Linked DNA regions of Homo sapiens. The protein of the gene in region 2 purifies or fractionates together with the protein of the main gene of each other region. This does not show direct contact. Each region holds a gene or a part of one and is shown on either strand. Other genes may lie near its edges. The genes, in order: SCPEP1 and IMPA1.

The links.
Region 1: the proteins of IMPA1 (region 2) and SCPEP1 fractionate together in Homo sapiens (co-fractionation; one large-scale study listed by BioGRID). This does not show direct contact.

The regions. Positions count from the first base shown.
Region 1 is NC_000017.11:56,987,949-56,991,773, reverse strand, and holds part of SCPEP1 (retinoid-inducible serine carboxypeptidase precursor), read right to left. Parts: intron 3,559-3,825; coding exon 3,484-3,558; intron 676-3,483; coding exon 603-675; intron 1-602. UniProt on the Homo sapiens protein: May be involved in vascular wall and kidney homeostasis.
Region 2 is NC_000008.11:81,676,262-81,680,086, reverse strand, and holds part of IMPA1 (inositol monophosphatase 1), read left to right. Parts: intron 1-856; coding exon 857-961; intron 962-3,807; coding exon 3,808-3,825. UniProt on the Homo sapiens protein: Phosphatase involved in the dephosphorylation of myo-inositol monophosphates to generate myo-inositol. Is also able to dephosphorylate scyllo-inositol-phosphate, myo-inositol 1,4-diphosphate, scyllo-inositol-1,3-diphosphate and scyllo-inositol-1,4-diphosphate.

The DNA.
Region 1 (3,825 bases), on a different chromosome or scaffold from region 2:
GAGAAACCCTGTGTTAGAGTGAACGCCACCAGGATGATTGTTTCAGATGTCTGGGGCCACACCCTGGGTGTCTGCAACATAAACAACTCTTATTTATGCTCGCAACACGGATGCTCAATTACAAAACTGCACACTTCTGAGTTGCAAGACCAGACGATAACCTTGTCTTGCCATCAATATGCGTAACAGACGGGAATTTTACCCCAAACACTTATGTCAGCATCAGGGAAGTAGAGGGGGCAGGATGACAAAACAGATTTGCCTTTGTACTGAGCAGCACAGACCTGGATTTGAATCCTGACTAGGCCACTCATCCTACGTGGCAGATAGCACATTTCTTGACCTCTCTGAGTCTTCAGAATGCCTCCAATTGTAAAATTTGATCCTTTTGTTGTGATAATTAAATTAAGAAAACTCAGTTCAGCCCTTAGTGGTCCATGGTAGGCACTCTGTCTCTATATTTCTTGGATGTAGCAAACACTTTCTCTAAGGGCCCAGAACATTCTCCTGCTTAGCTCTTTGATCTGGACAACACAGCCCAAAGTCCCAGGAAAGGATGGGCAAAAGGGGAGTGAAAAAATGCCTGAAAATGCCACACTTACCAACAGGGGAGATCCAGGAATCACCCAAGGCAACCCCCGCAAAGTTGCACTTGATGGTCCCTCGCTGAATGGCCTGAAAGAGGAAACAAGAAACGTCCTCAGGCCAGGTGCAGTGGCTCACGCAGTAATCCCAACACTTTGGGAAGCTTAGGCAGGAGGATCGCTTGAGCCTAGGAATACAAGACCAGCCTAGGCAATGTAGTGAGACCCCCATCTCTACAAAAAGTTAAAAAATCAGTGGGACATGGTGGTATGTGCCTTATAGTCCCAGATACCCAGGATGCTGAGGTCAGAGGATCACTTGACCCCAGGAGGTCGAGGCTAGCCTGGGCAGCATGGCAAAACCCCATCTCTACAAAAAAATACAAAAATTAGCCAGGCACGGTAGTGCTCGTCTGTAGTCCCAGTTACTCGGGAGGCTGAGGCAGGAGGATACTTGAGCCCAGGAGGCAGAGGCTGGAGTGAGCCATGATCATGCTACTGTACTCCAGCCTCTAGTCTGGGCAACACAGCAAGATCCTGTCTCAAAAAGAAAAAGTCTGAATATTTGAGATGAAAATTTACAGAAATAGAAAGTTGAGAACTACTGATTGAAGAAAGCAGGCTGAAACCAGTATGTATAATATGATCTCATTCAGCTAAACAATTCTATATAAATGTGCACAAAAATATTTAGAAAGCTATATACCCAGATGCTAACTATAGTGATCTCCATCAGGTGGGAAGGTGAAGTTTTCATTTTTAATTTATGCTTGTTACAGTTTCCAATATTCTATAATGTACATATGCTGTTTCTATAAGTTTTTTAAATTAATAAATCTTAAAAAAAACCCTTATTTAAGCTCACTGATATTCAAACATAGGAGATAGAAGGAAATGTGAAAGTCTTTTACTTTGTCTCATTTGTGCCCTCACACTCACCAACTGACTGCAGTTAAGTGTGTCATGTATCCTTCTAACCCTTTTGTTTGCCGTCACAGCATACAAATCTATCTCCACATATGGAAGTGTTTTTGACTTACAAACAAAGTTATCTCATATCGTTCCACAACTAAATACCCAAAGGAGAACTTTCCACACTCAGTATATATAGCTCTCTGTATTCTTTCTTTTTTCTTTCTTGTAGAGACAGGGGTCTCACTATGTTGTCCAGGCTGGTCTCTAACTCCTGATCTCAAGCAATCCTCCTACCTCAGCCTCCCAAAGTGCTAAGATCCATTCTTTTTTTTTTTGAGAAAGAGTCTCGCTCTGTCACCCAGACTAGAGGCGCAATCTCAGCTCACTGCAACCTCTGCTCCCTGGGTTCAAGCAGTTCTCCTGCCTCAGCCTCCCTAGTAGCTGGGATTACAGGCGTGCACTACCATGCCCAGCTAATTTTTGTATTTTTAGTAGAGATGGGGTTTCACCATGTTGGCTAGGCTGCTCTCCAACTCCTAACCTCAAGCGATCTGCCGGCCTCGGCCTCCCAAAGTGCTGGGATTACAGGCATGAGCCACCGCGCCCGCCTGGATCCATTCTTTATGCTGGCTGCAAAGGGTTTCATCTTGGAAAGATATACCTACTTTATTTAAGCAATCCTCTACTGACAGCCAACCAGCTGTTTTCAGTTTATAAACATTATAAACAATGGCATAATAAACATTCTCTGACATATACATATGTATAAGTATTCCCATAGGACAAAATTATTGGGTGAAATGACACATATCTTTAAAAAATTGACATTGTCAAATTGTCCTTTTAAATTTAAATTAATTTGTATTCCCATCAAAAGTGCACGACAGCACTTATTTCCCTGACTTCTTACCAAAACTGGGTGTTATCAGTCTTTTAAATATTTACAAATCTCATGGACTTGGCTTACTAATAAAAGCTGAAGATTTTTCTTATGTCTAAAGGCTGTTTATATTTCTTCTACAAATTGCTTGTCCACATTTTTCTACTAGGACATTGGTTTTGGTTTTTGTTTTCATTTTTTTCCTGAGACACAGTCTTGTTCTGTCACCCAGGCTGGAGTGCAGTGCCATGATCACAGCTCACTGCAGCTTCAACTCCTTGAGCTCAAGCGATCCTCCCACCTCATCCTCCCAGGTAGCTGGGATTACAGCCAGGAGCCACTGTGCCCAGCTTATTATTTTTTTTTTTTTTGTAGAAACAGGGTGTCGCTATGTTGCCCAGGCTGGTCTGGAACTCCTGGTCACAAGCAGTCCTCCTGCCTGGGCTTCCCAAAGTGCTGGGATTATAGGCGTGGGCCACTGCATTCTGTCCTAATTTTTATTTTTATGTTTAGATTTTAATCCATCCAGAATTAATATTTTATACAAGGCAAGAATACAAGTTTTCTATTTTCCAAAGTGATAGGTATTTGTCTCCATTATTTTTATTTTTATGTTTAGATTTTAATCCATCCAGAATTAATATTTTATACAAGGCAGGAATACAAGTTTTCTATTTTCCAAAGTGATAGGTATTTGTCTCCATAACATTTATCGACATTATATCCATGCCCCAATGATTTGAAACGTTATCTTATATTTATATATGATCATATATATTTATATAAAATACAAATATATGATACACATACATATATATGTGTGTGTGTTTCTGGATTCTGTATCCTGTTGCAATTAACCTATTTGTCTATTGCTATGTTAGTACCACATTCTTTTACTCACTCATGCTTTATATCTTGTTCCAGATCTAGCAGGGCAATCTTCATTCTTCTTTTAAAAACTTTTTATGGTTATTACTACAGATTTAATCGTACTCTGCATGTACATGGCCCTATTCAAAGTATATTTAATAGCACGTGAGTACATAAAAGTAACATAATTGATTTTCTGTCCAAAACCATAACAACAAAGTTATTTTCCATTACCTTATAAAGCTCTAGACCAATGCCAGCTGCCATTTTTCCTCCATAGGACTCTGAGAAAATGTAGAATGGAACTGTCTAGCAAGAAAAGGAATTACACAGAATTAACTACCTTGATTGCTTTTTGAGTCACACAAATTAATTTCAAATTTCTATTGCACGTAATGACCAGAAAAAACAAATCTGCTTTGTCTTCCTCCCCCACCACTCCATATCTGATTATTGCGTCTGATTAGAATGCTCACTCCAAGGTCATTCTTTCAAGTTAAATATCAACTTTAGAGATGACAGAAACAAAAGTCCACAACCCAATCTTGGGAATTAAAAAGTTTTCTCTGAAATCAG
Region 2 (3,825 bases):
CTCACCTCACTGCAACCTCCACCTCCCAGGTTCAAGTGATTCTCCTGCCTCAGCCTCCTGAGTAGCTGGGATTACAGGTGCATGCCACCACGCCTGGCTTATTTTTGTATTTTTAATAGAGACGGGGTTTCACCATGTTGGTCAGGCTGGTGTTGAACTCCTGACCTCATGGTCCGCCCGCCTCAGCCTCCCAAAGTGTTAGGATTACAGACCTGAGCCACCACACCTGGCCCCTATTTTTAAAATCATTACATTTCCTTAATGATTTCTTATCTGCCGCAAATGTGTGTGTGCACACACCTTACCCTAGTATAACATCTTATAATTTGAATTTTGAAATTTTTCACATCGCTTTATTCATGGGGAAATAAATTAAAGCTTCCTTACATTTATCAGTCTTTACCTGAAGGAAGAAGAAGCAACAATAGAAAAGTGTAGGGTACAGACTTTTGCTATTTTTTTTTTTTTTTTCCTGAGACAGAGTCTCTCTCAGTTACCCAGGCTGGAGTGCAGTGGCACGATCTCGGCTCACTGCAACCTCCGCCTACCAGGCTAAAGCCATTCTCCTGCCTCAGCCTTCCAAGTTGCTGGGATTACAGGCGCCTGCCACCATGCCCGGCTAATTTTTGTATTTTTAATAGAGATGGGGTTTCACCACATTGGCCAGGCTGGTCTTGAACTCCTGACTCAGGTGATCCGCCCTCCCTGGCCTCCCAAAGTGCTGGGATTACAGGCGTGAACCTCCACACCTCGCCTGCTATGTTTTATAGTACTCTGTGTAGCTAAGGAAATGTTATGATTTGGAAATTGTTGAAATCAGTGTAAAGATTAAGAGTTTGTCCTACTTGGCTTTTAGTTTCATTGGTGAAGAATCTGTGGCAGCTGGGGAAAAAAGTATCTTAACCGACAACCCCACATGGATCATTGACCCTATTGATGGAACAACTAACTTTGTACATAGGTATGTTTTAAAATGTCTAATATAATTACTCTTTGCATATTAACTGGATTGACCTATAGATACTCTATTTAGGAACATGTACACTTTAGAAAATTGTATACTTCGTTTATGCTTCTTTATTCTAATAAAGTATATATAAAATGTAAAAGTGGAGCAAAATGTATTATGCAGACTTATCAGATATGGAGGAGGTAAAGAAATACTAATGTGATCTTGTCCTGTGGTGCCAAGTGCCCCGTTCACCATTCTTTTTCCCACTGTTGGCACTATCTAAAAAGGGAAGCAAACAACATTGCTGCTTTGAGAGTGGGAAGGGCACTTTGCACTGCATGCCATTTTCTATTCTTTGAGTGGCATGTACCATAGATCTATATGGATCTACTAATATGCATCTATTAGTAGTAACTATGTAAAAATATGGTTTTTTTTTTTTAAGATGGAGTTTCCCTCTTGTTGGCCAGGCTGAGATGCAATGGCGCAGTCTTGGCTCACTGCAACCCCCACCTCCCGGGTTCAAGCGATTCTTCTGCCTCAGCCTGCCAAGTAGGTGGGATTACAGGCACCTGCCACCACACCCGACTAATTTTTGTATTTTTAGTAGAGGCGGGGTTTCACCATGTTGGCCAGGCTGGTCTTGAACTCCTGACCTCAGGTGATCCTCCTGCCTCAGCCTCCCAAAGTGCTGGGATTACAGGCGTGAACCACTGCACCTGGCCAAAGATATGTTTTCAAAGAATAAAAATAAATTTAAAAAATTATAAACTGACTATGTTAAAAAGATTGTATTTTAGTAAAACTAATGAAGTCACTCTTGGGGAGTGCTGTCGATATAGAATGAGTTCAGTCCAGGAGAAAAAACACGGTTAAAAAGTGCAGAGGAGGCCCCTCTCCTCAGCCCTTAGGGTGACGGGGATGGGGATGGGGCTGGGGCTGGGGCCGGCAAAAAAAAAAAAATTGCATGGGTGTTAGGATGAATAGACGTGCATTCTGGTATTTTTTTACGGCTTTTTCACCTTAGGCAAGTTAGTTAACTTTTCTAGGCCACAATGTTAAAAAACATTTATAAAAAGGCCGTATTAATAGCACTTGCCTCGTAGAATTGTAACTCAACTCTATGAGTAGTACATTAATGTAAGAACTTAGTATAGTGCCGACACAGAGTAGGTATATGATATTACTAGAAGAAAGCCTGGTGGAATTGCCCATGAGAGTTAAAATCAGTAGCCGCTTCTGGTGGGATTACATATAGATGTCATATTTGAAGTTCCCATGTAGTTGTACACATCTGTACTATATATACAATCCTTGAAATCTACAAAGCTAAGGTTTAGAATCTATATGTGATAGAATGTTATATCTTTTAAATGTGGAAAGATGCTAATATATTTTCACAGAAGAGAAGACAGTACAATACAGTGTGTATAGTATCTTATTTTTGTTAAAATAAAAACTTTCTTACATATTTAAAAGTTTTTATTTTCAACAGCTTTAGCTTCAATAGTTGAATGTTGATCTTGTCTATTTCCTTGATCTTAATTCTCTTGTGAGTCAGCAGTTACAACCTGTGTTCAGACTGTCATGCAGCTATGGAAAAATTTTGGCTCAAAGTCTACTTTTCAGAGGCCAAGCCTAAAGTTTGCTGTTGGAGTAGAGACAAGTAACAGCCATTTATTTTGTCCAGTGCAGTATTTGTGTTTATCACGGTGTAGGACATAGGAAAAAAACATCACAGGCCAGGCGCGGTGGCTCATGCCTGTAATCCCAGCACTTTGGGAGGCCAAGGTGGGTGGATAACCTGAGGTCGGGAGTTCGAGACTAGCCTGACCAACATGGAGAAACCCCGTCTCTACGTAAAATACAAAATTAGCCGGGTATGGTGGCACATGCTTGTAATCCCAGCTACTTGGGAGGCTGAGGCAGGAGAATCACTTGAACCCGGGAAGTGGAGGTTGCAGTGGGCTGAGATCGTGCCATTGCACTCCAGCCTGGGCAACAAGAGCTTAACTTCGTCTCCAAAAAAAAAAAAAATCACTAAAATATATGCTTTTTAACCAAATCGATTTAAAAGTTTTTACAGTTTTCTTTTTTAACCAAATTGATTTAAAAGTTTTTACATTTTGGCTTTTTTTTTAAAGGGGGACAGCATCTCTGTCACCCAGGCTGGCATGCAGTGGCATGACTATGGCTCACTGCAGCCTTGACCTTCTGGGCTCAAGGGATCCTTCTGCCTCAGCCTACCGGGGAAGCTTGGACTATAGGCGTGCACCGCCACACTCAGATAATTTCGTGACTTTTTTTTTGTAGAAACAGGATCTTGCCATGTTGCCCAGCCAGGCTGGTCTCGAACTCCTGGGCCCAAGTGATCTTCCTGCTTTGGCCTGCTAAATTAGTGCTGGGAGGAGTGAGCCGCTGTGCGTGGCCATGAAAAAATATTTTTACATAGCTACTATATTCATAGAATTTGACCTTCAAAAGATAGAAAACGCAGTGCAAAATGCCCTTCACACTTCCATTTCTGGTTTCCCAGGATCCATCTCTGGAGATGACCACTGTTACAAGTTTCTCGTGAATCCTTTCAGAGATGTTTCATGCCTATAGAAGCATCCTGTGTGAACGTGTGCCTGTGTGTTGGGGGGAGGGTGTGTGTGTATAATACCTCCACTTTATCCTATTTACAAAGGGTTGTATACCATACAAACTGTTTTGCATCTTAGATTTTGTGGGGAGTGGAGATGAGACTTTTTATAGGAAAAATTTTAAGAACACTTATATTATGAAAAGATTAATTTTATTAACAAAAGTTCTATGTTGGTTAATTTGTATTTTGTCCTTTTTTTTAAAAAAAGATTTCCTTTTGTAGCTGT